3 linked regions of the Homo sapiens genome follow. The protein of the gene in region 1 purifies or fractionates together with the protein of each later gene. This does not show direct contact. Each region holds a gene or a part of one and is shown on either strand. Other genes may lie near its edges.

The links. Proteins that work in one complex are often made in the same cells at the same time.
Region 2: the proteins of CCM2 (region 1) and DDX19B purify together in Homo sapiens (affinity purification with mass spectrometry; 2 studies listed by BioGRID and IntAct, with this or other methods). This does not show direct contact.
Region 3: the proteins of CCM2 (region 1) and UBE3D purify together in Homo sapiens (affinity purification with mass spectrometry; 2 studies listed by BioGRID and IntAct, with this or other methods). This does not show direct contact.

The regions. Positions count from the first base shown.
Region 1 is NC_000007.14:45,059,160-45,066,267, reverse strand, and holds part of CCM2 (cerebral cavernous malformations 2 protein), read right to left. Parts: intron 2,351-7,108; coding exon 2,267-2,350; intron 1,806-2,266; coding exon 1,622-1,805; intron 1-1,621. UniProt on the Homo sapiens protein: Component of the CCM signaling pathway which is a crucial regulator of heart and vessel formation and integrity. May act through the stabilization of endothelial cell junctions. May function as a scaffold protein for MAP2K3-MAP3K3 signaling.
Region 2 is NC_000016.10:70,330,186-70,335,805, forward strand, and holds the end of DDX19B (ATP-dependent RNA helicase DDX19B), read left to right. Parts: intron 1-1,536; coding exon 1,537-1,699; intron 1,700-2,782; coding exon 2,783-2,974; intron 2,975-3,335; coding exon 3,336-3,397; 3' UTR 3,398-5,120; downstream 5,121-5,620. UniProt on the Homo sapiens protein: ATP-dependent RNA helicase involved in mRNA export from the nucleus.
Region 3 is NC_000006.12:83,062,842-83,070,648, reverse strand, and holds the start of UBE3D (E3 ubiquitin-protein ligase E3D), read left to right. Parts: upstream 1-4,807; 5' UTR 4,808-4,930; coding exon 4,931-5,007; intron 5,008-7,403; exon of another isoform or gene 7,404-7,496; intron 7,497-7,807. UniProt on the Homo sapiens protein: E3 ubiquitin-protein ligase which accepts ubiquitin from specific E2 ubiquitin-conjugating enzymes, and transfers it to substrates, generally promoting their degradation by the proteasome.

The sequences.
Region 1 (7,108 bases):
GGGGACACACAACTGCTCCGGTGCATCCACAAAAACAAGGAAGATGGCCCCCAGGACACAGGGATTCACTCTCTTCCTTTAAATCAAAAGTTCTCTCAAAGACCAGAAGTCCTGTTTTTCATCTAATTTTGGAAAGTTTCTCCTATGGCGCTCATTCTCTCTCCATTAAAAAAAATCTGTCATCCATTTCCTTTAGCAATGTGTTCTAATAATTAAAGCTGAGAAACTGTCATGCAGCAGAAGAAATAAAGGGAGGAGCCTATCTCCCCTCCCTACCAGCTTGAAACACCTGCAAGAAGCGAGTCAGAAACCAGTCTCCTCACTCCTTGTCCCTAAGGATGTCCCAGGCCTAAGGCCTCCCGCAGGGTCCAAAGGTAGAAAAACAGGAGGGTCACCATGGTGTCGGATAGTATGGCTGGAAGGAGCCACCAACCCAGCCTTCTAAGCCAGATAGGGTGAGTAATGTACATGTGTGTAGGTGTGGTGTGTGCCTGCGTTGGGGAGGGTGTACGCAAGTCTAAGCTACTGCTACACAGAGAACAAAACAGAGCAACAGCCACCTTCATAAACCCCGCCAGTGTTCCCTGTGTAGTTTATGACCACAGCAACCCCAAGCATCTAGACTCACAGGCTTTCAGTGGACTGCTCTCAAGAGCGCACTCAAGCTGGCAGCTTCATGGCTCAAGGGGTCAATAATGAACACACTCGCCAGATTCTCAATGAACTACTGACCTTAAGTGGAACAACAAATTCCCCTCTCTGCTACCTAAAACACAGTGTGTGGTCTAGGCAGACCCACTGTGACCCCTTCACACCCTGCCACTGGCCCTCTGGAAATGAAAGGCTTTGGGATCAACCCAGTCACCAGCAGAGATCCAAGGAGCCCAGGATACTGTCCCCACTGCAACACCAGCCTCGAAACTCAGGACTGGGAGGGGCAAAATACAGGTAGGGCGAACCATGGTCTCTCCCCTCATCCTCAGTGGCCTGAATGCCTGGGCTGGAAGCTGCTGGAAATTAACGGGCAGCTTGGGCTTGGGTCCAGTGAGGCAGCACTGTACTCACCACAGCCAAAAATAACATTCTGCCCAATTCTGCCCAATTCTGCCCAATTCTATCCCATTGTGAAAGCAGCAGACGGCAAGGACACACAGAGAGTAACCTCTATGACCAAGAGCTCCTGGGAGGTCTGGGTCTCATCTTTTCTGTCCCAGGTTTGAGGACACTGTGCAGAGCTCAAAATATCAGTCAAGCTGAGGTGAGGTCCCTATCCACTGCACTCTCTCTAGGCTCCACCACACCTGGGCAGAGGGGCAACTCCACTGTACCCAGAGGGAGTCAATAGGAGCCCCACCGGGCAGAGGAACAGGATACCAGTCCTAAATACTGTATCCCAGTATTATTGAGTCCCCAAAGGCTCTTAGTGTGACAGTCACCCCCAGTGTCTGGTAACTGATCTCAAGCCCTCTTCTGGCTGATCTCAGAGACAGGAAAGACAATTATTGGTCGTGACAAACAGCAGCACCCAACACGAAGCTGCAAAAACTGTCTCCAGAACTTCATAAAATTCACACATGTACTCCTTAGGACAAGGACCCTCCTGACCCCTGACCTCCTGTACCTGTCTTCAGGACCACCAGGTGTGCAGCGTCATCCCGAACATAGGAGACGGCGGCGATGTCATGGATGGGCACCCTGAGGATGATATCCTCCCCGTCCCTCCAGGCCAGCTTGACGTTGTACGCAGACAGGCTGAGCACAGCATCGTGCTCCTGAGTCAAGTGTCCCGGAAGCTGGTGGGCTCTCTGGAAGGAACCACAGGGCATCAGAAATACAGACTCAGCTGTCAACCGGCATGGGGCGCTTCTCCTGAGAATATTGTGCTGGCCGATGTCACACATGTGACAAATGCTGAGTGAATAAGGTCAGTGTTATTCCCCTCAGAACAGTGCTTATTCCAGGGACACCAATGTGTTCAAACCATTTGGGAGATTCTTCTGGAACTGCCTTCAGATTCAGACTTACGGCACATGGTTTGAAATATCTTGAAAGTGTAAATTTTGGAAACAGCCCAAAATCACATGGAGCAAGTGTCGAGAATCAACTTAATGTCCATACTAAGGAATAGTCTTTATGGCCAAGAGCCAAGTGTACCCATAATGTGATGGGACTGGCTCATTCCTCACAGCCACGAGGCCAAGAGTACAGGGACCAAGGGCTGGTGGGGGCTGAGGGCTAGTGCACAGGGTTAAGAGGATAGGGTTACCTTTGCATTGTCTATGAAATGCAGGATTTCAGTCCTACTGGAGGGATTCAGGTATCCTGGTATGGACGTTAACTGACCTAAATACTGAAAGAAAGTGAAGAAAAAAATGCCATGAGAAATGGGAGCTGAGCCAACACCACCATCACTACCACCGAGAGCACAAACCAAGTGCTTCATACTCAGGCCACCAGGCCCATGGGTCTCCATTCCGGCTCGCGTGGAGGCCCAACTCTAGGAAGAGAGTCCTGGGTTCTTACAGAAATCTCTACTGGCTGAGGACAGTGCTGCCCCATCTCCTACTATTCTACAGTGAAGGTCATCATCAAAAGTCCTGCAATGAGTATCCCAAACTACTAGTACCAAAACTACTAGTTTTGGTAGAATCTGTATTCTAAAACAGGGATGGTCAGGGTTTTCTCGTCACTGCTGGGGAAACTGAAAACAATGGCATCATGCACAACTTCACTAAAAAATAAACTTCCTCAATTGCAAAGGTCAACATAGCTGAGAAATGAGCATAAATAGAGAAATGAAGTGCTATGGTTTCAATGTGTCCCCCAAAAAGCATGTGCTGGAAACTTAGTCCCCACATGCAACAGTGTTAAGGGTGGGGCCTTTAAGAGGTGATTAGGCCAGGTGCGGTGGCTCACGCCTGTAATCCCAGCACTTTGGGAGGCTAAGGTGGGCAGATCACCTGAGGTTGGGAGTTCGAAACCAGCCTGACCAACATGGAGAAACCCCGTCTCTACTAAAAATACAAAATTAGCTGGACGTGGTGGTGCATGCCTGTAATCTCAGCTACTCAGGAGGCTGAGGCAGGATAATTGCTTGAACCCGGGAGGCGGAGGTTGTGGTGAGCCAAGACTGCGCCATTATACTCCAGCCTGGGCAACAAGAGCAAAACTCCATCTCAAAAAAAAAAAAGAAAGAAAAGAGCTGATTAGGCCACGAGAGCTCTGCCCTTGTGAGCACATTAATGCTGTTATCCTGGGAGAGGGTTTGTTATCTCAGGAGCAGGTTCCTGATGAAAGGATGAATTTGACCCCCTTCCCTCTCCTGCCCTTCCACCTTTCGCCCTGGGATAACATAAGATGCAGATGCAGCCCCTCACCAGCTGTGCCCTTCAACCTTAAACCTCCTAGCCTCCAGAACGATACGATTTTTTTTTTTTTTTTGAGACAGGGTCTCACTCTATCACACAGGCTGGGGTGCAGAGGCGTGATCTTGGCTCACTGCAACCTCTGCCTCCCAGGCTCAAAGCAATTGTCCCACCTTAGCCTCCTGAGTAGCTGGTACTACAGGTGTGTGTCACCACGCCTGGCTAATTTTTGTAGAGACAGGGTTTTGCCATGTAGCCCAGGCTGGTCTCGAACTCTTGGACTTAAGCAATCTGCTCACCGCAGCTTCCCAAAGTGCTGGGATTACAGGTGTGAGGCACCATGCACAGCCTAGAAATATCTATTCATTATAAATTTCCCAGTCTGTGGTATCTGTTATAGCAGCACAAAACATTTAGTAAAAAGGTTTTTTTGGTCACACATGGCCATGAGGCACTTGGCTTAGCAAACCTCCATAATGCAGGGCCTCAGGTGTAGAAGGCTGTGGGCAGCAGCACTGTACCTGCTGTGCTCCTGCCTGCATCTTACCAACCACCATAACATTTTCAATGTTTCTGTTTTTTAAAATGGGTTGCTGATTCTTCCCAAGAACAGGCTTCTTGCACTCAACATTTCTCAGTTGTTCATTACCTCACACAGTTAAGTTCTCTATTAAAAAAGAATGAAATGGGACTTTCCAATTTCCTGTCCAGCTTGTAAAGGCTCAGAAGTCATCACTCCCATCCTCACAACAAGAAAGCTGGCAAACTTAAAATCAATGACTGTTCTCAGATCCATCAGATAATTGAGGTCACATGAAAAAACAATAACCCCAAAGATGGAGAGACAGATATGCAATGCTAAGAATCACAGCTCATTGCGGGGCAGAAACCCTAGAGCCAGCACCAGCAGAGAGGAAAGGGGAACTGACAAATGGCAGAGACTGAGCATGGACCAGTAGGAGACAAAAACTCCAGGGGAATAGTCACTGGGGAGGTCCCCATACCAGTCTGAGTTTTACCTCCATGAGCCCCACCAGGCTCTCAGGGTGAGACTGGAGAAACATCTCCTCATACTCTGGTAGGAGGAGGGAAGAATACATCATTTAAAAGTATAACCAGGCCAGGTGTGGTGGCTCATGCCCATAATCCCAGGACTTTGGATGGCCAAGGCGGCAGGTTTGCTTGAGGCCAGGAGTTTGAGACCAGCCTGGGAAACATGGTGAGACCCTATCTCTACAACAAGAACAACAACAGCAACAACAACAACAAAATAGTTGGGCACGGCAGTGTGCCTGTGGTGCCAGCTACTCAGGAGGCTGAGATGGGAGGATCATTTGAGCCCAGGAGGTTGAGGCTGCAGTGAGTCATGATGGTGCCACTGCACTCCAGTTTCCCAACCAACATATAAAGGGCTCAGAGGTCATCTCAAAAAAAAAAAAAAAAAAAGAAAGAAAGAAAGAAAAAGGCATGACCAGAGCATTCTGTTATCCTTAACAAAGGGCTTTCCTCAAGGAAAACTATTTTACCAGAGCCTAACCACCTAGGGGTAAGGAAACACCCAATTCCTGCCTCCTCTATCGTTTATGTCTCTCCTAAGGGGGAGGAAAAAAACAAAACTGAGAAGCACATGTGAAGGCCACGGCCCAGGGACACAGGTTCACTAAAACACTGAGACCTAATCCCAGGACTACAGAACACTTCCTCTCCCCTGAAAGCCACATCAACAGGACCCCTGTGTAATAACAGGGATGCACACCTATAAGAACTGCAGGCCTCAGACTCTATTTAAGAAGGAATCTTGAAGAAAACCCAAAAACAATGGAAGACAAAAACAAGGATACACAGGAGATTTTTATCCCCCAGCATCACAAGGGCAGCAAACAGTAAACACAGCCCAACTCCCAGCCAGCCAAACGTACCTCACACTAAGGCCTATTAACCTGACGCCTAAGTTCCTCATATCAGAACCAGACTCAGACATAGTGGAGATTTTGGAACTACCAGATTGGGAATTTAAAACAACTACGATTAATATGGTAATGGCTCTAACGGAAAAAGTAGACATCATGTAAGAACAGATAGGCAGCATAAGCAGAGATGGAAACCCTAAGCAACAATCAGTAGGAAATGCCAGAAAGCAAAAGTCCTGTAACAGCAATGGGGACTGCCTTCAACAAGCTCAAGAGGCTGGACACAGCCAAGGAGAGACTCTCTGAGCTTAAGAATACGTCAACAGAAACTTCCAAACATGAAAAGCAAAGGGAAAAAAGAACGAAAGAAAGAAAACAGAATATGCAAGAACTGTGGGACAGTTACAAAAAGTGTAACATATGTGCAATGAGGATATCAAGAGAAAGAAAAGAACACAATAACTATTTGGAGTAATGAGAGCTGAGAAGTTCCCCAAACTAATGTCAGACACCCATCCACAGATCCAATAAGGTCAGAGAACATGAAACGGTAAAAAGCAGGTAATTTACACTGAGGCAAATCACATCAAACTGCAGAAATCAAAGACAAAAAGAAAATTAGAAAGGAAGATTCTCTCTTTGCAGAAATCTGGGAATTTTTTCCACAGGAAAAAAACATCCTACCTATAAAATGGCAAGAACAAGAATGACACTGGATTTCTCTTCAGGAACCATCCAAGCAAGAAGAGAGAGGAGGGAACTATTTGATTCTGTATCCAGTGAAATTATCCTTCAAAAGTGAAAGAGAAATAAAGATTTTTATCAGAAAAACAAAAACTCAGGGATTTAACATTTCAAGAAAAGTTAAAAGAACTTCTTCAGAGAGAATGAAAATGATTTGGTCAGAAACTCTGATCTATGTAAAGAAGGGGAAAAGCATCAGAGAAGAAATAAATGTAGGTAAAATTAATCTTTTATTTTTCTTATTTTAATTGCTCTAACACATTAACAATTTGTTCAAAATAAAATTTGTGTATTGGGTGACTGTAGCCTAAGGATAAATGAAATAAATGACAGCAATGTTATAAGCAGTGGGAGGAGTGAACTGGGAATACTTGGTTACAAGGTATTTGCACTACCTGTGAAGCAGCACAGCATTATTTGAAAGTGGATTTTGATTAGTTGTGAATGTATATTGCAAACCCTAAGGCAACCACTAAAATAAATATATATATATACACACATACACATTTTTGAGACAGGGTCTTGCTCTGTTGCCCAGGCTGGAGTGCAGTGGCACAATCACAGCTCACTGCAGCCTCAACCTCCCAGGCTGAAGCGATCCTCCCACTAGTAGATGAGACTACACGCACATGCCACCAGGCCCAGCTAATTTTTGTATTTTTTGTAGAGACAGACGGGGTTTTGCCATGTTGCCCAGGCTGGTCTCGAACTCCTGAGCTCAATCAATCCGCCCGCCTCGGCCTTCAAAAGTGCTGGGAATACAGGCATGAGCCACCGCACCCAGCCTGTATTTTTTGTTTTTTCTTTCTTTCTTTCTTTTTTTTTTTTTTAACAGACAGGGTTTCGCCACATTGCCTAGGCTAGTCTCAAACTCCTAGGCTCAAGTGATCCTCCTGCCTTGGCCTCCCAAAGTGCTGGGATTACAGGCATGAGCCACCATGCCTGGCCAAAACTTTTAAACAAAAAATCAGCAAATTGAATCCAATAATGTATTAATAATTATACACCACGACCAGGCAGGATTTATCCCAGGTGTGCAAGGCTAATTCAATGTTCAAATATCAATCGTAGCGGGGGCAGTGACTCATG
Region 2 (5,620 bases), on another chromosome or scaffold:
TAAGGTTTTAGTGAGTCGTAAGAGGGAGACTTTGATTCCACTTCTTAGTGATTACTTGGAGAAAACCCCAAGTAACAGCCAATGAAATAATTTTTAGATTTTTAAGAATATAAGCTGGGCGGCTGGCACGGTGGCTCATGCCTGTAATCCCTGCACTTTGGGAGGCCAAGGCGGGTGGATCACCTGAGGTCAGGAGACCAAGACCAGCCTGGCCAACATGGTGAAACCCCATCTCTACTAAAAATACAAAAAATTAGCCGTGCGTGGTGGTGTGCACCTGTAATCCCAGCTACTCAGGAGGCTGAAGCAGGAGAATCGCTTGAACCCGGGAGGTGGAGGTTGCAGTGAGCTGTGATTGCTCCATTGCACTCCAGCCTGGGTAACAAGAGCGAAACTCTGTCTCAATACAAAAACAAACAAACAAACAAAAAACCAACAACAAAAAAAGAGTATAAGCTGGGCAAGTACCTGTAGTCCCAGCTACTCAAGAGGCTGAGGTTGGAGGATCGCTTGAGCCCAGGAGTTCAGACCAGCATGGGCAACATAGTGAGACCTCATCATTAAAAATATATATATGGCTGGGCACAGTGGCTCACGCCTGTAATCCCAGCCTTTTGAGAGGCTGAGGTGGGGGGATCTTCTTGAGCCCAGGAGTTCAAGACCAGCTTGCACAACATAGCAAGACCCCATCTCTACAAAAATTTTAAAAATTAGCCAGGCGTGGTGGTGCATGCCTGTGGTCCCAGCTGCTTGGGAGGCTCAGATGGGAGGATTGATTGAGCCCAGGAGGTTGAGACTGCAGTGAGCTGTGACTGTGCACTCCAGAGTGGGCAAGAGAATGAGATCCTGTCTCAAAAAATTTAAATTTAAAATAAAATTTTAAAATATATATGTTGTTTGTTTGTTTTTGAGATAAGGTCTTGCTCTATCATTCAGGCCAGAATACAGTGGCATGGTCATAGCTCACTGCAGCCTTGGCTCTTGTTACTAGGGCTACAGGTATGTGCCCCATGCATGTCAGCCTAATTTTTATTTTTATTTTTGTAGAGGTGGGGTCTTGCTATGTTGTCCAGGCTGGTCTCAAACTCCTGGCCTCAAGCAATCTTCCAGCCTCAGCCTCCCAAAGCCTAAGACTACAGGCACGAGCCACCATATCTGGCAAGAACATAGACTATTTAGGAATGAAGATCTTTGGCTAAAGCCACACTCTTCCTAGATACAAAAGTAACAGCAGTTACATAACTTATCTAAAAAGAAAAAAATCATATGACTAAAATTCTATTTGAAAGAAAAATTTTTTTTTGAGATGGGTTCTTGCCATGTTGTGCAGGCCAGCCTCGAACACTTGGGCTCAAGTGTGTAGCTTGGACTACAGGTGTGTACTACCATGCTTCATTGAGAAATTTTAAGCCTAACCTCCTAACTGGATTTAGCAGGGCCTTCATGTATTTTAATCGTGGCAAGCCACTTTTTAGCAGTTGTCTTCCTTTTGTTTTTAACAGGTCTCTTCATAAAAAACAATTCTTTTCACTACAGACTCGCAAAACAGCTAGTTGGCTGGCAGCAGAGCTCTCAAAAGAAGGCCACCAGGTGGCTCTGCTGAGTGGGGAGATGATGGTGGAACAGAGGGCTGCAGTGATTGAGCGCTTCCGAGAGGGCAAAGAGAAGGTTTTGGTGACCACCAACGTGTGTGCCCGCGGTGAGCAGAGGACGTGTCCCACCTGGTCTGCCAGGCTTGGGGTCCCAGGCCCAGTTAGAGCCAGAAATCCTTGTACACAGGGAAGTCGGATGGTCTCAGGGAGATGGGTGGGGTTGGTGACACTATTCCTTTCTAGGAGAGACTGTTTGGATTTCCCTCAGGTGATAAGAACTCCCACAGAAGCCAGGAGTCCTGACTTGGTGGAAGGAAATGTACAGGCATCTGACTGGTAGAGAACAGAGCCTGCTCTTCCAGGGATGCCCATCTCCAGAACATTGTGTCTCCCAGAGGCTTACTGACTGATTTCATAATTTTGTTGGCACCTGCCAAAGTTTTGTTCTTTTCCTCCAGGTTCTGCTGTATGCCTGTATGTGCCCTCTCTTGTACCCAATTCCCAGAGTTGGCCTGTCCCAAATGTATTTATTTATTTTTTTGAGACAGAGTCTTGCTCAATGGCCCAGGCTGGAGTGCAGTGGCACAATCTCAGCTCACTGTAACCTCCGCCTCTCAGGTTTAAGTGATTCTCCCGCCTCAGCCTCCCGAGTAGCTGGGATTACAGGCGCCTGCCACCAAGCCCAGCTAATTTTTGTATTTTCAGTACAGATAGGGTTTTGCAGTGTTGGCCAGGCTAGTCTTGAACTCTTGACCTCAGATGATCTGCCTGCCTCGGCCTCCCAAAGTGCTGGGATTACCGGTATGAGCCACCGCACTCGGCCCCCCAAATTCTTTCCCTTTACCCGAAGTTGGTATGCATTGACTTACCTGTGGACAACAGTGATTTTTGTCTCCTGTCCTTACTTCTCTCTGTCTCCAACTCTCAGGGACTCATTCATCACCTCTCCCTGCACCCCACCCCCTGACCCGTGCTAGTTTGGTATCTATGCCTGTAGCTTTGCTTTGGGGCATCATCTGAATCTCATACTGCACGGCCTTTCAGATCTGGCTTCCTGCACTCAATGTCATGCACGTCTCTTAGTGCCGTGTTCCCTTAATGCTGAGTCATGCTCCATTGTATGGATGGACCACATGACTGATTTGCCTCCTGTCCTTAGTCCTCTCAGCCTCCAACTCTCCTTCCTGCAGGCATTGATGTTGAACAAGTGTCTGTCGTCATCAACTTTGATCTTCCCGTGGACAAGGACGGGAATCCTGACAATGAGACCTACCTGCACCGGATCGGGCGCACGGGCCGCTTTGGCAAGAGGGGCCTGGCAGTGAACATGGTGGACAGCAAGCACAGCATGAACATCCTGAACAGAATCCAGGAGCATTTTAGTGAGTCCCGGGGAGGGTCCTGTGCCTGGCGCCCTTTGCTAAGTAGGGCGGGGTGGTGAAAGGGGTAGGATCTTCTGTAGCCCCAAGAGAGGCTCTGTCCCTAGCACACTCCCCTCCTTTCTGACCATATGGCAGTTCTCAGGGAGCACACCTGGAGACTTCAGGACCCAGGGACTCCAAGAACAGCTCCCCTGTGACTGGGCTTCGGGGCGTGGGGCTCTGACTGTTGCTGTCAGTGACTAGGGGCCCTGCTGCCCCCTGCTTAGGCACCCGGAGCCTTTGGGGCTGAATGAATGATTGCTGTGGCCCAAGATGGGGCACATTCCTGGGCAGGGTAGAGACCTGTGTATCTTTCCCCCAGATAAGAAGATAGAAAGATTGGACACAGATGATTTGGACGAGATTGAGAAAATAGCCAACTGAGAAGCTCCACCAGCCACTGATGCCAGCCCTGGCACTGCCCCTGCACAGGAGACAAGTGCGTTCAGGGCACAGGCCCCGACATCACCCCAAGGACAACGGCACAAGTAGAGAGAAACTACCTACCTCACTTCAAATTATGTTTGGACTTGACAAAAATGTATGCAAATGATGGGGGATGGTAGAAAAAAATTATTTACACAACCTTGGAAGATTAGGCATGAATACACAGAGATTTACCTTTTGGAAGTTTCATCTTTTAATTTGGCCAGTGTTTCCTTCATGCTAATCTAGATGCTGTGGCTGATTACTTGCCCAGGATCTCCTGTGGCAGCCTCTGCTTGTTCTCTGGCTTGGAGTGGATGGGGCAGCCTCCAGCTCCTGTGGAAGTAATGGAATAGTGGTGGAAAGGGAACACAGAGAGGGAGGCTTCCAGTAAGATAGGTGTGTAAGCCCAGCCATCATGTTTGGAATGGCATGAGGCAGCAGAGGAGGCCTGAGAGCTGCTGCTTTGGACTTGGGGGTGGGACAGCTCATCTGAGTATTGCCAGCCCCCTGTCCTAGTGCCCACAGCAGAAGGGAATTTGTTAAATAAGCATGGACCAAAATGCCAACCTCTCGGTTGTGTATATGGGTTTGTGTCACAGGACTGTGACCTGTTCTCGGTGGGTGCAGTCTGTGTAGAGTGCACATCTGATTATTGGTGGGTCCTGTGCCTGTGCTTAAGCAAGTCCTGTGGAGAAGTCATCATGGAGAATTAGTGGTGGCCCTAGCGTGCCACAAAACCTGGTCTCATGAGCATTTGCAACATCCCTTTTACATCCTTAATATCCCCTTACCCCACAGTAGCCCCAAACAAATGTGATCTGAGGTTTAGATCCTCAGTGAAAATTGTGGTTTCAAGTCTTCATGGCCAGCCTCAAGGCAGTTCTAGATGTGATCAGCAGTAGTCACAAATTCTTGTTTTGTCTCCACACCCAGAAGGCAAGTTTTGTCAGAGCTGGGGAATAATTTCAGATATTTGACATCTTGATTATAAAGGGCTTCTGAACATCTGTGTTTACTGCCTTTGGAATACAAACAGGTGCAACTGAGGGACTAGCTACACTACCACCATTTATCTGTCCAAGGCAAGAGTATCACCAAGGCCTTTGCTCCAGCCTTACTTGGCATCTTTGCGCAAGATAGTCAGAGCAAACAATAGTAATGGACACTTCTCACACCTGGCCAAGGCTGTTGGTACCCACGAAATGACAGCAAAGATGAGAGGAAACTGAATTGCAAGAGCAATATGAAACCCCAACCAAGAGGAGTACTCTGCAGTTCTTTGGCTTTGGTATAGAGTGGCCACTTTCTCTAGGACCTGGAAGAAGAGTTTGATGGCTAAGAACGATTGTGATCCTAGGTCTTCTTTGTACGCATCTCCGTATTTAGGCCAGATCTGCCTCCTGGGAAGGGAAGGGGCCAATGTCAGCCTCCAGGTGATTTCTTTAATCTGACATTACAAAGAGACCAACAGACTGCCAATTCTACCACATTCCCCTGGTGGGTACTCGACTATGTAGTTTTCTCTATGCTTCTGGTCAACTCTGACACATCTTGGAATTCTTGTAATAAGAAAAGAAATTTTTATACTTTTTTCTCCTTCCCTGAGTCCTGTGGACCAACCCTGAAATACTAAAAACAAGGGCAATAATTAAAGAAGTATAGACTCTTTAGTAGGCCACAGGCAGAGCAGACTCCCACCTTCTCAAGCACATACAACCTCTCTACTGGTGTAGCCCCAAGTGTGAGAAGGAAAGTGGGAAGCGGGGTGCTGCAGACTCTTTGACAGCAGGAGGAATGGGAATCTGGTAGAAGTATAGGTCAACAGTTCTTTTTTTTTTTTTTTGGAAACGGAGTCTCACTCTGTTGCCCAGGCTGGAGTGCCGTGGCACGACCTCGGCTCACTGTAACCTCTGCCTCCCAGGTTCAAGCGATTCTCCTGCCTCGGCCTCCTAGGACTACAGGTGCACGCCACCGCACCCAGCTAATTTTTGTATTTTTAGTAGAGATGGGGGTTTCACCATGTTGGCCAGGCTGGTCTTGAACTCCTGACCTCAAGTGATCCACCCACCTTGGCCTCCCAAAGTGCCAGGATTACAGGCGTGAGCCACCGCGCCCAGCCAACAGTTATTAATCAGGGGTCTTGGACCTCTAAGAATTCACTGGATGGGTTTCATGGAG
Region 3 (7,807 bases), on another chromosome or scaffold:
GAGCTAGGTCTTAAAGGTATAATTTAGACACTCAGAAACAGAAGAACATTCTCAGAGAGTAAAAGTATAACTATATGTGCCTGAGTGGTGGCATCTTCCAAATCTTGATTGTGGTGGTAGCTACACGGGTGCATATATATCTACTAAAACTTATTGAAATGTACACTTAAATGAATGTACATCAGTATATATAAATTTTTCCTTAATAAATTTGATACTATATAATTGACCAATGCAATGAAAGGTCATTGAGATTTCAGGCTTGGATAGCTTGGAGAGGAGGAAGTAAATACAATAAAGGAAAAAGGGAAACCGCCAGTTAAAGACAAGGGTATCATATTTTCATACAATTCTCAATAAAAACTGTTAACTATTACACAAAAAATATTAGCTTTATATTTCTACTTAATAGTTTTATTCCAGGGAGATAATTTACCTGAATTAACGCTTATCTATTAAAATTACATGTTCTCTTCCCACCTCTCCTATCTGCAAGCAAAATTGTGCATTAACAGCATTCACCCTAAGAAAGTAATAAAGAATGAACAGAATATCCACACTGGTGGTGTACTAGTGACACTTAACAGACTTTAGCAAAACAGTTTAAGATTGTGTTCAGCACACATCCTGTTTGTAAAGCAATTTAGAAGTAACTGTCTCAAAATTTGTGTTTTAGCCTTTAGCTCTTTTCCATGATATAAGCTCTTAAAATAGGTAGTTATTACACAGTAAGCACATTTTGGGTGGCTTCTACCATAATTTCATTTTAGGAATGCATGACTATAAGGAGAAATCATCACAGCAAAAGTGATGCCATTATCAACAAGTCTTCACTTGTTGGAACCTCAAAATGCCATTTTGAATAAAATCAATAACTACACTCCACCATCAAATTCAAAACATGAATTATGGTTTTAAAAAAGTCAAAAAACCAGAAAGAATAAGATAAGTCTTCTGCCAATAATTAAAGCATTAAGACTCATGGGAACTTAAGTGTATCATTAATATTTTACTAAGAAAAATATAATTTTTTTTATACAAGTGAGTTGCCACTAGATCTTCATGCTCCAAAAAGTTTAAAATGACAGCCAAAAAATAAGCCTAATGCATGGACCTTTACAGTTGAAGAGGACTCAGCTTAAGTACAGCAGTTTTTAAATTTATATTCTATGTAATTATATTCTAAGAGTTGTTAACCATTTGGCCATGAGAAAATAGATCAGGTAAATTTGGGAATGCTAGGATAACCTTCTGGAGATTTACATGTATCAGCATAACAGTAAAGGTTTTGAAGAGTCCTGCCTTTATAAGCAAAAAAGTTAAACCTAGTTTAACCTAGTGTGCTCCCAAATTATTTGCCATTGAACACTGCTTTGGGGAAAGTAAGCCTATTAAATGGTTTTAGAACACTGTTCTGGGGGAAACATCAGTTTGGAAAACCCTGGTCTTTTCAAATTTCCTTAAACAATGACAAAACCGAAGCCTGGAGATCACACCTGGTTAGTAGCAGATTAAAGCACTTGAATCTAATCTCTTCATTCCCAGGCCAGAGCTCACTCCTTTACTTTAACTACAAAATAGGACTTCTTTGAATGTATACAAACATTTAACTGACAACACTTACCTTACATTTAAGATTTGGGTTATGGTGTCACATTTTCTGGTTTGTGTATTAAATCAGGTGTTTTTAGTTCCTTCAGCACTAGGTACCTAATAATCAAGCCCACGTGGAGATTTGCTACTGCTTAACAATTACAGAGAATGATTTAGTTATCAGTTGTGGCCGAAAGTAATCACTAAAATAAAGCATTTAGACTACTCGTGGTTTTAATTTACTCATAACTTCAGTCGGCCCACCTAAATCACTGTGTTATCTATCAGGTGGTGAGTTACTTAGCACATAATGCCGACGTATGTTATTCACTGTAGACCATATTAATACCCACAAACAAAATTAAAATGTGAGAACTTATGTCTGCATAGACAATGGCCAACAACATCAAAACAGATTTTTCTCTCTCTACAGTTCAGGGCCTATTTGTCAGGCAAACAGTTTCCTACATTTTTGGTAATTATCATTTTTTTTGACTGCTTTAGCTGGAGTCGAAGTCATTTTCCCAATCTTTACATTTCTCAAACGCCATAGAACTCTAAGATAGTGTAAAAATGTTCAAACACAATTTACTTAGCTTAAGAAAAATAGTTGTGTGCCATTCCCCGCCCCCCTCAGGGTACAGGAATGGAGGAGGCCCGAACAAGTGACTATTGTTATGTTGCAACTTTAAAAGGCTTAGGAATCAAAGGTGATAATTGTTAACAACACCCGTTTGACTCTTCTGACTTCCTCTTAATAAACTTCGGTACTCCTTTCTAAGCCCCACGGAGAACATGAACCATCGCGGGCCTACGTGTCTCCTCAATGCTAAAAGAACCCACCAGCCGAGAAGGCACAACGCCTCGATTCCTTCAACAAAGAGGGTACTCCGCACGCCTCCATCGCACAGGTGCGACCTCTGCCCCAGCCTTGCGCACCGCTCCGCCCCAGCAGGGGAGGCTCGGGACCTGTCCCCGGCTCCCCGGCCCCGCCTCCGGCCTCCCTCACCTGGGGCCGCCCTCGCGCCTCTGCCCGGCCCAGGCCCCGGCCCCAGCCCTGGCCCTCCAGTCCCCGCGCAGCTCCCGACTCCCCGTAAACCAGAGGGCGGCCGACCAGCTTCGCAGCTCCTGGCGGGGCCGGAGCGGCAACACCCCCGACGCCACAGCAGTCAGACTCGCAAGGCGTCCCCGCGGCTCAGGACCTAGCCGGGCCGAGAAGGATGCTCGGAGCCGGCTACCAGCCTAGCGGCCGCACTGGGGGCAGGGACGCTTTTACCTGCTGCTGGCTCGGCCGCTTCTCGCCGGCGCAGCTCTCCTGGCAACCACGGCAGCTACACCGAGACCGGGAGCCGAAGGGCCTAGTGACAGCTCCCAGAGTGCACCGTGCTCGCGCCCACGCCGGCGTCGACGTCTGAGGCCTTCGATCCCCGCCCCCGATCGGCTTCCTGCCTCCCGGCGCTAGCTGTTGCCACAGCGCCCTCAAGTGGACTGTCGCGGGAAGCGGCCATGGCTACCAATTTCAGGAGTGGCTAGAAAGGGGGTTAGCAGATGTTTTCATTTGAAGAGATAATAGGAACTGAAAACAGCTTTTAAATATTATTTGAATAGTTTCTCAATATTTCATATGAGTAACCTGCATCCCAGAGAGGTTAGGAGACTTGTGAAGTTAGGAGACAAGTAGTTGGTGTCAGATTTGGAACTATTTTGAGTCTAGAGCTCTATCAATCATATCTAGTTACTCCAAGGTAAATTGCACCGTTTTGCCAACACCATACCGTAAAAAAATGAAAGTTTTTACAAATACGTAACTAAATATATAAAAATCTTTTAAGCTAACAAAACAATTATAAAGAGTAAGTTGTGCTACGGAAGTTGTATATTTCAATATAATGTGTCAATATTTAAGCATTCAATAGCCTCGGGTACTAAAGGTGGAAGATATGAAGAGTTGAAATCATCATCCTTCAAATAGATGAATTATTTGAGACCAAATAATAGTAAACTTTATTTTTTTAAGTGAGTTGTTGCTTCCATCTATAACTTCAAATTATTGTGATAGATATAATAATTTGTGCATCAACATAATAAACTTTAATCACCCCAAATACTGATTTTAGAAAAATTGTCAAGCTATTATCTTAAAATATATGACAGGATTTATTTATTTAGAATTTATTTATGGTTTAGGCTGGGCATGGTGGCTCACACCTGTAATCTCAGCACTTTGGGAGGCCAAGGTGGGCGGATCTACCAAAAACAGAAAAATTAGCCGGGCATGGTGGCGCGTGCGCCTGTAATCCCAGCTACTCGGGAGGCTGAAGCAGGAGAATCGCTTGAACCCAGGAGGCAGAGGTTGCAGTGAGCCGAGATCGCGCCACTGCACTCCAGCCTTGGCGACAGAGCGAGACTCCGAAAAAAAATAAATAAATAAAAGCAGCTCCTTGTTTTTAAGAAGCCCTATTGTAATTCTACCCGGTCTTATATTTTAATAGTTCTTCATTATAAGTATTTACATTATACCAGGTTCTTTACTGTGTCAAACTTTTCAAAACTATCTTCTGGTAGTAAACTTCTCCAACTTCTCTTAGTTTTTACTTTTGTGAAAGTGAATAGTGGAGCTGTACATACGTAATCATTCTCATCTTCCTTTTTTACCCCCTAAAAAATGGTTAGTCCTGATAGACTTCAGCCACACTCTTCTGCATTAGGTAACAAAGAACTTCCTTATATTTTTGCACCTGTTTCAATTTTGGAGCTATCCTGTCTAAGTTGAGAAGCAATGGCAAGTCAATTCTTGAAAATTTTGTCGCTTTAGATAGAGGCTAACAAACGACCCTTGTTCATAAAGAGACCAAGATAAAGTGGGTTTGGGGCCGGGAATTCTGTTCTTGCATCTCCTGGGGACAAAGCCCACCTGTAACACTTGCCTCCATCATCTCCCTCCCTTCGAGCTAGCCAAAGGTGTGAACCCTGGGTCTGATTTTTATGGTCATTTCCAGGGATGCTAACGCGCCAAGTCACGCTCATAAGAAGCAGAGTGGGGCGATAGCTAGCCTCTCGCCGCCCACCTTTCTCAGCACTCTGGGCCAAAGCCTGGTTTTGAAAATGCGCGCCCCGCCCCGGCCTCCGGGGTCACGCGCCTTCTCGGTGGTGCACTCTCCGGCCGGCAGGTGGCGCTGTGAGCTGGTAGGCGGCGCCAGCCCTGCGATCTGGCACAGGCGCCTGCGCCGCAGCGGGGCTGCCGCTGGTTGGTCCGCACGTGGAACCTCTCCTGGTCCTGTTGACCCGGGCCCCTCGGAACCTCCAGCTTGGTCCGGTCTGGGACTGGAAGCCTGCCATGGCGGCTTCTGCGGCGGAGACGCGCGTGTTTCTGGAGGTGCGGGGACAGCTGCAGAGCGCGCTTCTGATCCTGGGGTAAGAACTGGGATTCTAGGCGCAGTGCCCAGCTCGCTTTACTGCTGCCCGGGGGTCGGGGGCTGGTGAGTCTCTCTCTGTACGAGGGATTTTGAGTTTCTTCTTTCCAGTTGCGTAGAGCCTCTCGATCACTCAAAGTGAAGCTTTCCCCTGTAGTCGGCTCCGCCACTCCCACCCCTACTGACAGTGTGGGTATCTTTGGGGAGCTTTTTAGAAATTCAGGGTCTCAGCTCCACACCAGACTTATGGAATCAAAACTTATATTTTAACAAGATTTCCAGGAATCAAATGCACATTAAAATTTGAGGAACAGTGATGTAAAACACTGTTGGCAGTGCCCGGCGTTTCCAACAAAACAATGCAAAAAATGATTTGTCTGTCTCTCTTCGGGATCCTCCTTACTGGATCAGTTCCTATGTGAGCTTCTTGTTTTGTAAATAACCTCGGGTCTTTTCGTCCAAAACTGCTCTTTGCAGAGAAACCACACAATCATTCAATAAACGTGAGTTTAGTGAACCACTAAGACAGGTTGTAGACTTCTTACTGGAGCTCGTTCATTTATTCATATTCTTCCTTCCAGTGAGAACGTCAAACTTGTTATTCGCTACACAAATAACTTTTAGGAAAAATGTTCTCTATTTTGTTTGACAGCAGTTTTAATGATTTGTGGTCCCCTTGTCTATTCCTTTGTGATCGCTGTTTCAAAGAGAGTAAGTTAGAAGTTAAAATCCTGAGAATGGTATTACACGGTGCCACAGGTAGATTGATGCTTAATTTTTTCCTCTTCCCTAAATCTGCCAGATATCTGGTGTGGCAATTTGGAATATGGCGTGAGAACTGAGTTCAAATGCTAGCTTCCTCACGAAATTAGAATAATTTAATCTGAATTTCTTCAATCTTGAAATGGGAATAATAGTACTCTGAATGTATTTCTTTTTCTCTTTCAAAATTTATGAATTTGGACAAATATCTCCAATTCTGGTGCACCTTGTAGAGTAATTAGGAACCCAAACCCTACCAAAATAAAACAAAAACCACACACACACAACAAACCCTCCCTTCCTCTCATGCAGGGGCCTTTCACAGTTCCCTTGGACTACTCTCCTTTGTTTAGGCAAGGTACCCGGGTGGCTCATGCCTGTAATCCCAGCACATTGGGAGGCTGAGGCGGGCGGATCACGAGGTCAAGAGATCAAGACCATCCTGGCCAACATGGTGAAACCCTGTCTCTACTAAAAATACAAAAATTAGCTGGGTGTGGTGGCGCGCACCTTTAGTCAGTCCCAGCTACTCAGGAGGCTGAGGCAGGAGAATGGAGTGAACCCGGGAGGCGGAGGTTGCAGTGAGCTGAGATCGCGCCACTGCAGTTCAGCCTGGCAACAGAAAGAGACTCCGTCTCAAAAAATAAAAAATAAAAAGAAAAAAAAAGAAACCTAACTTTGCTGGACTTAGTTTTGCCATTTCTTGAACTACTTATAAATGGATTCATACAATATATACTTTTTTGTTTCTGGCTGCATTCCTTCCATAATATTTTTCAGATTCACGTTCCATCTATGTGGCTGCATATATCAGTAGTCCATTCCTTTTTCTTGCTAAGTTTTCCATTGTATGAATATACCACAATTCATTTATCTGTTCTCCTATTGCTGGATGTTTTTCTTGTTTCTGGAGTTTGCTTATTATGAATACAGCTGTCATAACACTGTTGTATAAATCTTTTTTTGGACATACATTTTCATTTCTTTTTAGGTAAGTACCTAAGAGTGAAATTTCTGGGTCATAGGATAGATGTGCATGTTACTTTGTGAGAAATTGCCAAACAGTTCTCCAAAGTGATTGTACCAGTTTGCACGTTCAACCAGAAAAAAAATGAGTTTCAACTACTTTACATTTTGACTTACATTTAGTATTATCAGTCCTTTTAGTTTGAACCATTCTAGTGTGTGTAAAATAGTATCTTGTGGTTTTAATTTTCATTTTACCGATGACTAATAATGTTGAGTGCCTTTTCACTTGCTTTTTAGCAATTCATATATGTTCTTTTTAAAAGTATCTTCTAATTTTTTTTGCCCATAATCAGATTATTTGTCTTGTTTAATTGAGAGTTCTTTATACTGTCTCAAAACAAGAGCTTTCTCACATAAATGCCTTGTGAATATATGACTATTCTTATCTGTGACTTAACTTTTCATTTTCTTTTCTTTTTTTTTTTTTTTTTTTTTTTTTAGACAGCGTCTTGCTCTACTGCCCAGGCTACAGTGCAGTGGTGTGATCATGGCTCACTGCAGCCTCAACCTCCTGGGCTCAAGCAATCCTCCCACCTCAGCCTCTGGAGTAGCTGGGATACAAGTTGCATGCCACCATGCCCAGCTAATTTTTGTATTTTTTTGTAGAGATAGGGTTTCACCATATTGCCCATGCTGGTCTTGAACTCCTGGACTCAAGCGATCCACCCACTTTGGACTCCCAAAGTGCTGGGATTACAGGTATGAGCCACCATGCCCTGCCTCGTTTTTTTGATAGTGTCCTTTGATGAACAGAAATTTTAATTTTAATGAAGTCCACTCTATCGTTTTTTTATTCCTTAAGGGTTAGTTTTTTTGGTGTCTTAAATCTTTGCCTACCTTAAGGCTGTGAAGATGTTTTGGCAGGTTTATTTTCTAGGAGTTATATCGTTTTAGCTTTCACATTTTGATCTGTGATCATGTTGAATTCATTTTTGTGTTTGCAGTGAAGTAGGGATCAAAGTTCTTTTTTTGGTATAAGGATATTCATTTATTCTATCACCATCAGTTGA